Linked DNA regions of Homo sapiens: all the other regions are linked to region 3. The links come from fine-mapping of genetic effects on gene expression. A gene starts in region 3. Each other region holds a variant in brackets. All regions are shown on one strand. Distances are between the middles of the regions. Region 1 overlaps GALNT6 (polypeptide N-acetylgalactosaminyltransferase 6). Region 2 has its middle 11 kb from the start of GALNT6. Region 3 holds the start of SLC4A8 (solute carrier family 4 member 8).

Evidence for each region.
Region 1: its variant is fine-mapped to the expression of SLC4A8 in monocytes (Quach 2016, PIP 0.95).
Region 2: its variant is fine-mapped to the expression of SLC4A8 in whole blood (TOPMed, PIP 0.98).

The regions. Positions count from the first base shown.
Region 1 is chr12:51,371,779-51,377,001 of GRCh38, forward strand. The region is part of intron 4 of GALNT6 (polypeptide N-acetylgalactosaminyltransferase 6); the gene reads right to left. Among named protein-coding and RNA genes, the nearest start is that of GALNT6, 17 kb to the right of the region's middle. RefSeq lists an enhancer at 1-102. The variant G/A (reference allele first, on the strand shown) is at 3,035.
Region 2 is chr12:51,399,876-51,405,098 of GRCh38, forward strand. It overlaps a transcript of SLC4A8 not described here. Among named protein-coding and RNA genes, the nearest start is that of GALNT6, 11 kb to the left of the region's middle. The variant C/G (reference allele first, on the strand shown) is at 2,966.
Region 3 is chr12:51,422,299-51,427,501 of GRCh38, forward strand. SLC4A8 (solute carrier family 4 member 8) reads left to right here and starts at 2,533. Exons shown (of 25, transcript NM_001039960.3): 1 at 2,533-2,737. The coding sequence starts at 2,690. SLC4A8-AS1 (SLC4A8 antisense RNA 1) reads right to left here and starts at 3,030. Exons shown (of 3, transcript XR_001749147.2): 1 at 2,942-3,030; 2 at 2,189-2,301. RefSeq lists silencers at 2,292-2,501, 2,772-2,981 and an enhancer at 3,092-3,151.

The DNA.
Region 1 (5,223 bases), 51 kb before region 3:
ACTCTCATAGGGCTACTACTGGGTGCCTGGAGTGGAGGTCAGAGAGCAGGGACATTGTATTTCGGCAGAGACACAGTCCTGTTTGTGTGTGTGTGTAATGAGAGCTGGTTAATCTGATCAAACAGTCAAACGTGTGGGAAATTTTATCCCACTGTGGACGGCAGAGATTTCTGACCATGGATCTGAGGGTTTTTTCCTCCTTTCCTCACTGAACTGAATGTTGCTTAAAGTATCTCTAGCGTCTGAAAGCCCTCTGGGTAGGGTTGTTTATCATAGGGTCCACAAATTCCCTGGAATTAAATGCAAAAATGTGGGTTTTGCATATTATTGTGGGCAGTGGTGCACTATTCTAGGGATTTTAACAGATTCTGAAAGGATGCCAGGACCCAGAAAAATAAGAATGACTAGCTTAGGTTTTTCAGGCAGGTGATTGTTTTGTTTTTGTTTTTGACACAGGGTGTCGCTCTGTCACCCATGCTGAATACAGTGGCATGATCAGGGCTCACTGCAACCTTGACCTCCTGAGTTCAGGTGACCCTCCCACCTCAGCCTCTCGAGTAGCTGGGACTACAGGCACATACCACCATGCCCAGCTAATTTTTTATTTTTTTGTAAAGACAGAGTCTTACTATGTTGCCCAGGATGGTCTTGAACTCCTGGGCTCAAGTGATTTTCCCACCTCAGCCTCCCAAAGTGCTGGGATTACAGGTGTGAGCCAGTGCGTCCTGACCATGCAGATGATTTAGAGATGCTGGAATTGGCCTTTGGAGAGAATTGGCTTTAGAAGAGAGTCCAGGGCAACAAGTCCAGGACAGACAGAGAGAAGGTGAACGTGTATATGGTGGCCTGCTAGGGGCGGGTGCTCTGGAGGGGATACTGGGGCTACTGCCAACTCTGCCCTACTGAACACAGGCTACTCTGCCTGTTAGATGCTGCCTATGCCAGCCTGGCATTATGTCACTTGTCTAGCTAGTCAGAGGAGTTGCCTACCTGGGCACTTGCAGCTCACAGAGTCACAAAGTTTAGGGTGAAAAGTTAACAGTTTAGAACCCCCACGTCCAAGGCTACGGGAGCCCACCTCTTGCATCAGCGTGACCTGGATGTGAGACACGAAGTCAAAGGAAATCACTTTGGAACTTTAAGGCTTAATGAATGCCCTGTTGGATTTTCGATTTGCATGGGGCCTGTAGCCCCTCTGTTTTGGCTAATTTCTCCCATTTCAAATGGTTGTATTTACGCAATGCCTATACCTCCATTGTATCTAGGAAGTGACTTAACTTGCTTTTGATTTTACAGGCTCATAGGGGAAGGGACTTGCCTTGTCTCAGATGGGAGTTTGGACTTGGACTTTTGGGTTAATGCTGGAATTAGCTAAGACTTTGGGGGGACTGTTGGAAAGGCATGATTGTGTTTTGAAATGTGAGGACATGAGATTTGGGAGGGGTTAGTGGTGAAATGATATGGTTTGGCTGTTTCCTCACCCAAATCTCATCTTGAGTCGTAGGTCCCATAATCCCCACATGTGATGGAAGGGACCCAGTGGGAGATAATTGAATCATGGGGCAGTTTCCACCATGCTATCCTTGTGATAGTAAGTTCTCACGAAATCTGATGGTTTTATGAGGGGCTTCCCCTTTTGCTCGGCTCTCATTCTTCTCTCTCCTGACACCTCATGAGGAAGGACATGTTTGCTTCCCCTTCTGCCATGATTATAGGTTTCCTGAGGTCTCCCCAGCCCTGCAGAACTGTGAGTTAATTAAACCTCTCTCCTTTATAAATGAGAATGGACTAATACACTCCAGTACAAGAGATTCAGGTGAAAGAGCTTCCGAAGGATGGGTAGCATAGGGTTAGGAGGAGAAAGATAACGAAAGAACCCAGTTTGAGAGGAAGGACCGCTAATATGCTTGCTTCCATTCCATACAACCTTTCCATTGCTACAAAGATTCCCTAGAGATCACTGCCAAGCTCCTCCCATCTCTGCCAAACTCTTCACCCTTCCCTTTCCAGAAGCCTAATCTATACATTCCTTGTCCACCAGACCCTGTCATTGCATCCCTGATACTTGCTTGCCTTGATTTATTTATTATTTTTTTTTAGAGACTGGGTCTCACTCTATTGCCTAGGCTGGAGTACAATGGTGCAGTCAAGGCTCACTGCAGTCTCAGCCTGCTGGGCTCAAGCAATCCTTCCACCTCAGCCCTCCAAGTAGCTGGAACCACAGGCACATGCCACCGTGCCCAGCTAACTTTTCTATTTTTTATAGAGATGGGGTCTTGTGACATTGCCCAGGCTGGTCTTGAACTCCTGGCCTCAAGCAATCCTCCTGCCACAGCCTCCCAAAGTTCTGGGATTACAGGCATGAGCTACTGTGCTTGGCCTATTTTACTTTATTTGTATCTTTTTTAGAGACAAGGTCTCACTCTGCCATCCATGCTGGAGTGCAATGGTGCAATCACAGCTCACTGCAGCCTCAATTTCCTGGGCTCAAGTGATCCTCCCACCTCAGCCTCCCAAGTAGCTGGGACCACAGGCAAATACCACCATGCCTGCTAATTTTTTATTTTTGTAGAGATGGGATTTTGATATGTTGCCCAGGCTGGTCTGGCCTTGCTTTATAAGTGCTGCCAAGTATCTGTCTTCCCTGGGAAGATGTGAGCTTCCTGAAGAAATGAACTCAACAGGGCTCACACTCAGCCCTTCCTTCCACAGCCCTAGTCCTCTTTTCAGCATCACCCCTAACCTAGAGGAAGGAGGGAGGCTGGGGGAGGACAAGGACAGGAAGCAGCTCTACTGGAGTGGCCCCAGCGCTTACACTGGGAAGTGTGGAGTCAGTTCCTGCCCTCACTATTGGGAGTTTGAGCACAGGAGGTCAATCTGGGAGAGCCCCAGACACCACATGCCTCCTACGAGGAGGGCTAAGCTTGTGGAGACTCTCAGCCTAAAGGTGTCTCAGTCCCACAGCCTTTCCTAGTTCAGGCCCCATCATCTCCTACTCTCAAGTGAGTGTAAGAACTTCCTCTCCAGACTGTGA[G/A]TCCTCTGCCTCTCTTCCTGCCGATTATCCTCCTCCAAAGCTGCCATCCTTCTGAAATGAAGTCACAGTACAGATGAAACACTTTCAACGACTCCTTCTTACTTTCTAAATAAATGCTTTTAGCATGACATGAATGTCAATTCAACATTTTTTTTTTTGAGACAGGGTCATGCTCTGGCTCAGCCTCCCGAGTAGCTGGGACTACAGGCACATGCCGTCATGCCAGGCTAATTTTTGTAATTTTTATAGAAAAAAGGTCTTGACATGTTGCCCAGGCTGTCTTGAACTCCTGGGCTCAAGTGATCCACCCGCCTCGGCCTCCCTAAGTGCTGGGATTACAGGGGTGAGCCACTGTCCCTGGCCAATTTAACATCTTTTAAGTCTCATTTCCTAAACAAACCTAAGCTTCAGCCACACCAGATCTCTTTAACAAACACATTCATGTCTTTAGGACTGTGCTTATGCCATTCTCTTGTGGGAATGCCCTTCATCCACTCTTCTCTCTTAGACACTCATCCTTTAAGGCCCAGCTCCAATCTGGCTTCCACTGCAGACCAGCCCTAGCCACGCCAGGCAGAAATGGCACCTCCTGGCTACATACTCCATGGTGCATTGTTCTCGTACCATGAATAAAATGGAATGCATGCTTGTGACACTCTTACTTGATGCCAGCCACTCTGTGGCACATGAATCTCATTTATGACCTATCTCATATCCCTCACCCACCATGTAAGGGACTCAACTGCTCTTTTTTTTTTTTTTTGAGATGGAGTCTCACTCTGTAGCCCAGGCTGGAGTGCAGTAACATGATCTCGGCTCACTGCAACCTCCGCCTCCTGGGTTCAAGCGATTCTCCTGCCTCAGCCTCCCGAGTAGTTGGGACTACAGGCATGCTCTGCCACGCCTGGCTAATTTTTGTATTTTTAGTAGATACGGGGTTTCACCATATTGGCCGGGCTGTCTCGAACTCCTGACCTTAAGCAATCTGCCTGCCTCGGCCTCCCAGAGTGCTAGGATTACAGGCGTGAGCCACCACGCCCAGTCCTTTTTTTTGTTTTGTTTTTTTGAGAAGGAGTCTCACTCTGTCTCTCAGGCAGAAAAGCAGTGGTGCCATCTTGGCTCACTGCAGCCTACGCCTCCCGGGTTCAGGTGATTCTTGTGCCTCAGCCTCCCGAGCAGCTGGGACTACAAGCGCGCACCACCACACCTGGCTAATTATTTTTTGTATTTTGGGTAGAGATGGGGTTTCACCATGTTGGCCAGGCTGGTCTCAAACTCCTGACCTCAAGTGATCTGTCCGCTTCAGCCTCCCAAAGTGCTGAAATTACAGGCTTGAGCCACTGTGCCCGGTCTGCCCCCATTTTTTGAAGAGGAAACAGGTTCAGGGAGGCCAAATGCTTGTCCAAGGTCACAGAGCTAGGAAGGGTCAGAGCTGGGATTTGAATTCCTAGGTGTTGGACTCTGCAGTCCATGCCCTTTCACACCTGTTACAGGTGCATCACTGCCACAGCACTGTGGCTAGTGTTGTAAGAGGCTTCTGGCCGGGCACGGTGGCTCATGCCTGTAATCCCAGCACTTTGGGAGGCTGGAGCAGGCAGATTACCTGAGTTCGGGAGTTCGAGACCAACCTGACCAACATGGAGAAACCCCATCTCTATTAAAAATACAAAATTAGCTGGGTGTGGTGGCACATGCCTGTAATCCCAGCTACTAGGGAGGCTGAGGCAGGAGAATCGCTTGAACCTGGGAGGCGGAGGTTGTGGTGAGCTGAGATCACACCATTGTACTCCAGCCTGGGCAACAAGAGCGAAACTCCATCTCAAAAAAAAAAAAAAAAAAAAGGCTTCTGACCTATGGGGGTTTTTAGTATTTTCAGGGCAGGGTCTGTCTCCTTTGTCATGGCATCCCCTCTGCCTGGGTCAGAGCCAGGCACACAGTACTCAGTAGATGTTTGTGGAATTGAAGGCTGGAAGTTTGGTGAGCAACCCCACTTACCTATCAACAGCTATGGCAAAAAGGGCTGGTTGGGGAGTCTTCAAGAGCAGAAGAGTGGCCCAGCGGGTAGGAAACAGAGGTGAAGGCCTGTCCCTACCCTCTGCCCTGTCTCTCCCAGCATTTCTGAGTTAGGGTTGGCCTTGGCAGCGTTCAGGGAGTCTTGAAGCCAGAGCTGAAAAGCTCTTGGAGCTCTT
Region 2 (5,223 bases), 22 kb before region 3:
GTAGGCTGAGGCAGGGGAATCGCTTGAACCTGGGAGGTGGAGGTTGCAGTGAGCTGAGATTGCGTGACTGCACTCCAGTCTGGTGACAGAGCAACACTTCGTCTCAAAAAAAAAAAAAAAAAAAACCATGTTGGCACTGTCCAAAGGTAGCACAGAGGTACGAAGTGGTCCCTCCTCCTGGGTGTGGTGGGTGGAGTGGGCAGAGGCCATGCAGACCCAAGCACTGCCCCTTGGCCCTCTCCTGGGTTTGTTCCACCTGGACCTGCAGATAAATCCAGAGGCCTTTGATCTCAAGGATTTCTAACCACCCAGAGATCAGGAGGAAAGACTGCAAAGGAAGCCCTAAAGTAGAATAACCTTTTCTTTCTCCATGAATGGAATGTAAGTTATGTTTGCTGAGGGCAGATTAAAATAGATTTTATTGTTTGAAATCAGGAATTTACAGAAACTCTTTGAAGAGCTACTATCATCGAAGACCTTTAAATCCCCCACTGTGGTAGTGGGCAAAATAGTCACGTACAATTGTAATGTGTATAGATGTGTATAGGTTTTCTCAGAGTTGGGACCCACTGCCAGGCAGGGAGTTGGTGGTATTTGATGCTGTTGTTTGGGGAGGAGTGGTACTAAGAAAAAAAACCATGGTTAGTGAGGAAAAAACAAAAAACACAAAACACACTCTCAGTTGCCCATAGAGTTATATCAGTTTGATGGGATACCCTAGAACACCTCAGGGGTCTGTGAATCCTTTAACCACTCAATGGAAAAGGTGACTGGGGTATAGATTGTCTAGTTTGTTTATATGACATAACTTTTTTCCAACGGTACTTGAGAGGAGTGTGAATGAACTCCTTTATATATATATATATATATATATATATATATATATATATATATATATATATACATACATACACACACACACACACATATATAAACATATATGTTTATATACGTATATAAACATATATGTTTATATACGTATATAAACATATATATGTATATACATATATATATATTTTTAAACAGGGTCTCACTCTGTTGCCCAGGCTGGAGTGCAGTGGCACCGTCACGGTGAAACGGGAAAGGTTCCCTTGTCCCCCTCACAGGGAGTGCAACAAGGGGAGTGGCTCGCTTCTTTAGGGCCCGGCTGCTGAAATCTCTATGGAACATACAGATGGGCAGGTTGTGGGGTTCAGATCCCACGGCAGCGTCTACCTTTGGACAGTGCCAACATGTTTTTCTTTTGTTTGTTTGAGACGGAGCGTTCCTCTGTCGCCAGTTAGTGTTTACAGCTCCTAGCCCCAGTGGGCGTGTGCTACCGTGTGCTCTTTTAATTTTGCCGTCTGTAGGCGGCTGTGCTAACCAGCTGGATTAGACCCTCTGCCTTATCGCGAGGTTTTCTGTATCCCGGGTTCTTGCCTTGGTGTACCGGAAAAATCAGATCATATGTGGGCTTGGAGAATGAGTGCAAGGTTTTATTGATTTTAAGTAGCTCTCAGTAGATAGGGGAGCCAGAAGGGAGATGGAGTGGAAAGGTGGTTTTCCCCTGAGTTGGGCCGCTCAGCAGCTGGGCTCTCCTCTGACTGCCCCAGGCAAACTCTATGTCTTTCCGTGGGCCGATGGCGTGCCAGCGTGCTGGCATCTGCCACTGCATGTTGGTATGCTCTTCCACCAGTGTATTCCTCTCGATGTCCAGCTGCCTGTGCGTTCCTCTACTGATCTGTTCCTCTTGACGTCCAGCCGCTTGTGTCTCTGCCCGCTCGGGTCTCGGGGTTTTTATAGGCACAGGATAGGACTGTGGTGGGCCACGGTGGTCTTGGGAAATGCAACGTTTGGGCATGAAAACAGAAATGCCTGTCCTCACCTAGGTCCCTGGGCACAGGCCTGGGGGTGCAGCCCTAGCCAGGGACCACCCCCTTCCCTTCCCAGCACTTCCCTGCCCCACTCCCATATCAACTCTTCAATGCAGCCTCAGCCTCCCCAGGCTCAAGCAATCCTCCCACCTCAGCCCCCTGAGTAGCTGGGAGTACAGACATGTGCAACCACACCCAGCTAATTTTTCTATTTTTTTTTGTAGAGATGGGATCTCCCTATGTTGCCCAGGCTGGTCTCAAACATCTGAGCTTAAGTGATCCTCCTCCTTCAGCCTCCCAAAGTGCTGGAATTACAGGCATGAGCCACAGTGTCTGGCCCCTTCGTATCTTAACCACCAGGAGAAACAGACCTGAAGTGATGCCTTGATATATGTGTGTTATGCAAGACTAGAGTAAGATTTGACAGGCATATATGGTTACAACAGGGGGTGAGCTCAGACTTTGAAAAGATATTGGCTTCACTCCCTAATCATCAAGACTTGGAATATCCTGGGATTCAGCTGTTGTTGAAGGGAAACCATTCCAGGTTTGCCAAACAATTGAGTGACTTAAGGGGTGCAAAGCTAGAATGCTTCAAGAATAGAGGGAGAAGAAGCCCTGCTGTGCTGATGGGCTCTCTATGGTGTTATCCTGTCCTGGCATTTGCTACCCCGATAAACTCACAGGTGCTAAATTTAAAGGCTAAAGTGAGGCCTGGCACAGTAGCTCACGCCTGTAATCTCAACACTTTGGGAGGCTAAGGTGCGTGGATCACCTGAGGTCGGGAGTTTGGGACCAGCCTGGCCAACATGGTGAAACCCCGTCCCTACTAAAAATGCAAAAATTACCTGGGTGTAGTGGCGTGTACCTGTAATCCCAGCTACCTGGGAGACTGAGGCAGGAGAATCTTTTGAACCTGGGAGGTGGAGGTTGCAGTGAGCCGAGACCGCGCCATTGCACTCCAACCTGGGGTACAAGAGTGAAACTCCATCTCAAAAAATAAAAAATGAAAGCTAAAGTGGTCAGGGTAGTTGACTCCTAGGCATTTATTTGTCCCTTTGCAATTAATCTAAGCACCATATGGTGATTCCACTCTCCTTGCCAGTGATGGG[C/G]AAAGACGGGTGTCTTCTGGGGGTGCTTGTCACTTATCCTGTTCTTCACAGCGTTATCCCATGGCCAGATGCTATGGGAGAGGCATGTCTCAGTATGGGACTGGGGGTCCCTGATAGAATCCCCCCCAGTGAAAGGAGAGACTCTGAGAATGACTGCATGAAGTCCCCCAGTTAGCTGGCAGTTCTGTAGTCATGGGTAAGTTGTTTAGCCTGTTTTCATTTTTTTTTAAAGGACAATTATATAGAGTCTGTTGTGAAATTTAGATTAGGTAATAGGTATAAACTGCTCAGAACAGTGCTCAGAACATAATAAATGCTCTATGTTCAACAAGAACAACAGCAACAAACTCAGAAGCACTCCTCGCTACCGCCGGGGAGACCCAGGATACCTAAACTTTACTGAGTTGGGGCCACTCAAGCCTGAACAGAAGGATCAGTGGAGCCAACATGTGAGTTTCTTGATATGTGCCTGTTACTCCACCAGAAAGCGTTACTTACTCATTTCCAGAGTTTGGGCAGGAGCCATGACAGCCTGTTGATGAGCTTGGCTGAATCATGAAATTTGGCCTGGGTTTGAGGGTGGGCAAGAATGGCCGCTTGGATCCTGCTCAAAGTTCTTTCGTTTTAGGTTTACTCCCAAAGCAGCTGAAAGCAGTGCACAGGATAGAAATGAAACAAGGGTACATTTAGGTGGGTGGCTGCTGCTTCCCATGGCCTCTTGTGTCAACTCCCAAAGAAGCACCCCTCAGAGTCTGCCGATGTTACCATTCAGTGGGGGAGAAAGATGTTTGCCAGACTGGAGCAGCAGATAACGGCAGGTTCACTGCCTTTATACCCCAGCCACATGGCACCCAGAAGGAATAAGAACACCTATTTTATTTAACACCCGGCAATAATTCTGTTAATCAAGCCATGTCACCCAGGTCTAAAGTCTAAGCATTGAGATTCTTCCCATGTCAGCCTTGGGGCAATCATTCCTTATCTGTACTTTTGCCGTAGGCAGGGCGGTTGCTAGCATTGCTAAAAGGCATCCTTTCTGTTGGGCAGATGCAAAGCTATACATTAGGATGCTTGCTTGACAAGCTAAGTGTGTGCAAGGCACAAAAGTTGCACAACCACAGGTGGTGGCAGTGGCTGCAGGGCCCTGGAGTTCCCATTTCTGCTTGGGGCCTGGCACAGTGATCTCTGCCTTAGGGTAGACAAGGGAAGTAGGCTTCACTCAGGGTGAAGTCAGACTTGTGAGCAAATCATAAGACTCTTCCGTGTGGCCACTGTTGCTGCTTGCTGCAACACAAAAGCAGACGCAAATAGGACATCGGGAGCTACATGAAGGGGTTAGATGGCTTTGGAACCCTGGGCTGCCTGGTGAGCATAAAATTGTCAGTCTGTGGAAGTTGACTCCTGACCAAATGCAAGAGAGGCTGGGGAGGTTGACTATGTACAAGGAGAGGCAGAGATTGGGATGGGGCAGTCAAGTACAAAGAACCTGCTTTTTCCTTTAGCATCTTTTAGGGAACTACCTTCCTTTGATTCTTAGTCCATGAAATTCAGATGAGGCCCTCCTCACTCCCTAGCGCCAGCCAGGTGAATCTTAAATCTTGTAGCCACAGTGATTGGTTTAGGGTTAGGCATGTTACCCAAGCCAGGCCACTCAGAGCTTTCTCTGAGACATTTCTTAGGGCAAGCAAAAAAGATGAACTCCTCCCCCCGTCTTTTCTCCTCCATCCCCACATGACCACTGATGGAATCATTAGATGGGAAGTTATGTATGTTTAGGGTGGCTAGTGATCATCTTTGCTATTACATGAGGCAGGAGAGTCAACTTGACCGTGAAGCCAACGCTGAGAAAGCAGAGAAAGATAAAGAATGAGAGGACTCCAGTGATATCTTTTGGACTCCTGGGTCCTGCTGTATCTGAAGTCATTTATTCCTAGACTTCTCCTTTCTTCCACTTTCTTTGCTTTCTCCTCCCTTCCCTGCTTTCTTTCTTCCCTTTTCTTTTGTCTCTTTTTCTTTCCTTATTTTTTTCTTGTTTTGATTGAAATTTGTTTGAGTGTGTTTTTGTCACTTTCAACCAAAAGAATCTGATCAATAAATAATATGATGCACTGGATTAAGTTATTGCTATAAGGGCGTGAAAAGGCTTGAGGTAAAAGGGCTGTCTATGTTCATGAAAATCCAGGTCTGGCAGGGAAGAAGCAGAGAGAAACTGCCAAGAAAAGCTTAGGAAATGATGCTTCTGACTCTCCAGGGAGCAG
Region 3 (5,203 bases):
ATCATTTAAGAAAAATAAAGTCTGAATGAATTAGCCAGATCTCCACAATTTGATCACAGCCTTTTATTTTATTTATTTTTTATTTTTTTGAGACAGGGTCTCACTCTGTCACCTCGGCTGGAGTGGAGTGGTATACTGAAGCCTCTCCTGGGCTCAGGTGATCCTCCCACTTCAGCTTCCTGAGGGGCTGGGACTGCAGGTGCATGCCACCATGCCTGGCTAATTTTTTTGTATTTTAAAAATAGAGATGGAATTTCTACATGTTGGCCCAAGTTGGTCTTGAACTGTTGGGTTCAAGGGATCCATCTGTCTTGGCCTCCCAAAGTGCTGGGATTACAAGTGTGAGCCACCATGCCCAGCCCACAGCCTTTCTCTATCACAACTATTACCTCCCACTGCTCTTCTCAATAACTTTCTGCTTTGGCCCAAATTGTGGCTACCCTGAATGGGCCATGTGCATTATTATTCTTAAGTCTTTGCCTAAGACTTGAGATGCTTGCTCTTCTTACCTTGGGTCAGCTAAATCTTACCCATGTTTTCAGACTTAGCTCGAATCCATGTCCTCTGTGAAACCTTCCTGAAGATCATTTTCTCTTCTGAATTTTTGCAATCTTCATGGTTTATATAATATTACTCATTAACATATACCCTGTTTCCCTGATAAGCCTGTTAAGCTCCCTTGGAGATATATATTTTAGATTTCTCTGCCTCTACAGTGTTACTTGGGCCTGTTCATTAGTAGGTGTTCAATACATTTTTTATTAGATTGAATTAAAAGCATTCATATTTACTAAGTACTTTCTATGTGCCTGGGATTGGTTGAGGCTCTGTTGAGTATACAGAAGGGCATAAGAAAAATAATCATTGCTTTCAAAGAACTTATAATATTTTAGTAAGCTAAAGTCAACATATAAAGTACTTAAATAACCACAGCATGACAACTGCTATAAGAAAGGTATGAAGTGCCTTGAGAATTCTGGGGAGGGTGAGATGACATCTGTTAGGGGTATCAGGGACAGTAGAATAAAGAAAGGCTTCTTGGAAGAGGGTGGCTTTTGAGATTAACTTTGAAGGATGGTTAAGATTTTGATGGACAAAAATGGGGATGAGGGTAGGATGTGAATTCCAGATTCAAGATGACAGGATTAGTAAAGAGATTGATGGAGTGTGTGGCAATGAACACTAAAACGCAGAGACTAGACAGGAGGCTTATACAGGACATCAGAAATACAATTCTGCTTCAGGGATACTGAAGCCCAACCTTGTTTCCAATTTCAGGACCAACACAAAGGATGGTAAGCAGGGGTGGAAAGTTTTAACATGTATCAGACTACCTTCCCCAACTGTAGCTTCTTTAGGGGCTGAGAATTATTTGCAACAATTCTTCCCCTGACCCCAATTTGGACCTACCTGAAGTCTGGTATGATAGTGCATATAAAACAAAAGGCCCCACGGCCGGGTGCCATGGCTCACGCCTGTAATCCCAGCACCTTGGGTGGCTGAGGCGGGCAGATCACCTGAGGTCAGGAGTTCCAGACCAGCCTGGCCAACATGGTGAAACCCCGTCTCTACTACAAATACAAAAAAATCAGCCGGGCGTGGTGGTGGGGACCTGTAATCCCAGCTACTCAGGAGGCTGAGGCAGGAGAATCGCTTGAACTGGATAGGCGGAGGTTGCAGTGATCCAAGAACACGCCATTGCACTCCAGCCTGGGCAACAAGAGTGAAACTTCGTCTCCAAAAAAAAAAAAAAAACAAAAAAAACAACAAAAAAAAAACAAAAAAAACCCAAAAGGTACCTTTCTTTTTCTTGAGGAGAGAGGGTTGCTTCGATTTTAGCCAGCCTCTCTTTTCTTATAAATCCAAATCAAATTTAATGCATTATTCATGATATTCTAACCTTGTGTTAAGTCAGTAGTTCTGTTGCTAAATAATAGTTTGCCTTAGATCATTTCCTGGAAAAGTTCGAAGCCTTTTTGTGGAATTGCTTCAACAGTCATCCTTAGCTCGACCCTGTCCGTGTGTTTTGCTTCTGACTTGAGACTCAAGAAGAAGACCTAAGTCATAGTGAGACTGTGAGGGAGCCTGACACTGCCTGCCTTCTTCAATTTAATGCTCTTTAATCTGGCCATTAGCTCAAGGAAAAACAATTAATTTTAGAAGGCCCTCTCCCCTCATCCGCAATTACCTCCTCCTGCAATCGCGAAGGATGTTTGCCCGGAATTTAAACATCATCTCCCAAGGAATGAAATCAGAATAGGCAAAACCGACACTTTCCCAGTTTTCAAGGGTCAGGTGCAGCTGCAAATAGAAGCAGAGATTTTCTAGCAAGCAGTTGGAAGGACCTTCACGCCCAGAGGCCCCTGAAGGGAGGGAGGCGGTTTCCAAGGCAACCGGGCCCGGGAGCGGTTGGCTCCCCGGCTCCTCCCCCTCCCCGCGGTAGCCCAGGGTACCGCCGGACAGCGTCCTCCCGTGCTCCGCGCCCTGATTGGCTGCGCAGGCCTCTCGCTGATTGGTTGCGGCGGATGCCTCGCGGGCCGGTGGCTATGGAGGCGGCGGCGGTTGATGGTTGACCGTTGGCTCCGGGGTGGGGGTCGCCGTTCGAGTGATCTGCTCAGACCCGACCAGAGGGCGCGGGCTGCTGATGCTTGGCTTGGAGCCCGTGGGGGAGACCTAGTTCGGCTCCGCCATGCCGGCCGCCGGGAGTAACGAGCCGGACGGCGTCCTCAGCTATCAGGTAGGGCCCCGCCTCCCGCGCCTCCCGCTCCTCCCCGGGGCGCAGCCTCCTCATCCTCTGCCCACCCTCCTTCCTTCTGCCCCCGAGCCCAGGCTTCCCAGGCCGCTCCCTGAGGGCGAGGGGAGGCCAGCCCGGGACACCAGGGGGCGCTCCGGGCGGTTGGGGACCAGGCCAGGGCTGCGAGAGAGTGACCTTGGGCCGAACCTGGGATCTGGCCCATCTCTGCCGCATCCCTTGCGCCGCCCGCCCAGGAGCCCTGACAGCCGGCGGGCGGCGACCTCTTGTTCTCCTCGCGTCTTTCTGTTGGAAGGGGCCGGCGTCTGGCCTCGCGTTGTCCTGCCAGAACGTGGGCAGAAAGGGTAGCAGGGACCTTGCTCTGGTGGGGCACGTCTTCTCTTTGTGTTTTTATTTCTGGGGGTTTCTGGTTCCTCAGTGGTTCAGAGGAAAAGCCAGAAAAGACTCTGGAGGCTGGGACCAATCCCTGATAGGGTGACCCGGTTTGTGACTCCCTCTGCCCCATTGAACAGACACCTGAAAACTTCTGGGTAGGGACTGCAAACTGGGCTGAGGATGTGTGGAGGGGTCAGGAACAGGTGCTTATTTAAGGGAATTAAAAAACCAAGGTTAAGTAACTGGTATTGGAACTGTTGGGGCGGCTAATGTAAGGAAAAGCATTGGACTAAGTGTTAGAGTCTGTAGTTTGAAATCCTACCTCTGCCTCACACAAACTTTGTGACCTTGAGTAAGTCACTTGCCTCTTTGAACCTCAGTTTCCCCAGCTATTAAAATGGGAATAGTTATGTCTGCTTTGCATGCTTCACAGGGTTGTTTTGAGGATCAGACGAAGTGCTGTTTGTGAAAGGGCTTTGTGGAGTAATGTTTATTGTGTGACACTCAGTGAATGAGTGGCAGCCCATTGAATTCTCACTCCCCGTTTCCTGTGCAATCAGATGGTGTGGTTTCTGCCTTGGAAAGAGGGTTGGAAGAGGAGGCAAGTCTGAAGTACAGGGCTCTGAAGAGGGTAATGGGCCATCTCAGGAAGGATGACACGTCTTGGAAACAAGTGCCATGTTGACCTCAGGGATGGTTTCCCCGAGGAGGCAGGGAAAATATCCTGAGTTTGCAACAAAATGAGTATCAGACACTGACTCTCTCCTCTTCTTCCTGGTTAATAGTTTGCTACAATTAATAGAAGATACATCCTTCTTTCCTTGCTCTGTCTGAAAAGAACAATATCTAAGATTTTGGAAAATGCATATCTAACCCCCTTAAAGCCTATTAAATGTATTCAATCTCTGTTTGGGATACAATGGTAAGAAAAAATAGGCAATGTTCTTGCCCTCCTGGAGCGTATCATTTAGTGGGGGAGGGGAGAAGTACTATTTTTAATCAAATATCACACAAATAAATATCATAAACTGTGATAAATGCTTTGAAGAAAGATAGGCAGTGCCATAAGCGTGTATAACAGTGGTTCCAGACATGGTCTCAGAGAAGATTTTGCTAAGGAAGAAAATCTGGGCAAAGAGCTAAAGGATGAATAAATGTTAACTGAGGGAAGAGGGGGATCACAGGGCCTGAGAGGCAAAGAGAACAGCTACACAAAAGACCTGTGGCAGAGGGGGACACACCTGGTTAGAGACCTGAAATGAGGCCAGTGTGGTGCAGCAACAAGGAGCGATGAGGGGAATGGTATATGAGATGTGTTCTGGGGTTATAACACACAGGGCCATTTGGAGCCCATGCTGAGGAAGTTGACATTTATCTGAGGAACAAGGGGAAGCCACTGAAGGGGTTTAAGTAGAGGGGAAAGGGGAGAGAGGGGGTCTCTCCTAACCGGGAGAGAGAGAGAGGGCATGAGAGAGTAAATGAGATCATGAACAGATTTTCTTTTTTTTTTCTTTTCTTTTTTTTTTTTTTTGAGATGGAGTCTTGCTCTGTCGCCCAGGCTGGAGTGCAGTGGTGCGATCTCCACTCACTACAAGCTCCGTCTCCCAGGTTCACGCCATTCTCCTGCCTCGGTCTCCGGAGTAGCTGCGACTACAGGCGCCTTCCACCACGCCCGGCTAATTTTTTGTATTTTTAGTAGAGACAGGGTTTCACCGTGTTAGCTAGGATGGTCTTGATCTCCTGACCTCGTGATCTGCCCGCCTCGGCCTCCCAAAGTGCTGGGATTACAGACGTGAGCCACCGTGCCCGGCCCAGATTTTCCTACTGAAAGATTTCTTTGGCTGCAGTGGGGAGAATAGGTTGGAATGGATGTGAGGATACAGTGTCCTTAACATGCAGAATGTTTACAGGTTATATTATTGAGGGCATCATGACCCTTAGGTTTCTGTTAGTGTTCTGTGAAATTAGTAATTCTTGAGTACTTCTGGAGTAGGATAGAAAATATCTCCTTTATATCTAGTTTGTGAAACTTTCTTGGGTGGTAGGGTGAGGAGAAGAAAAGGAATACAATGGGAA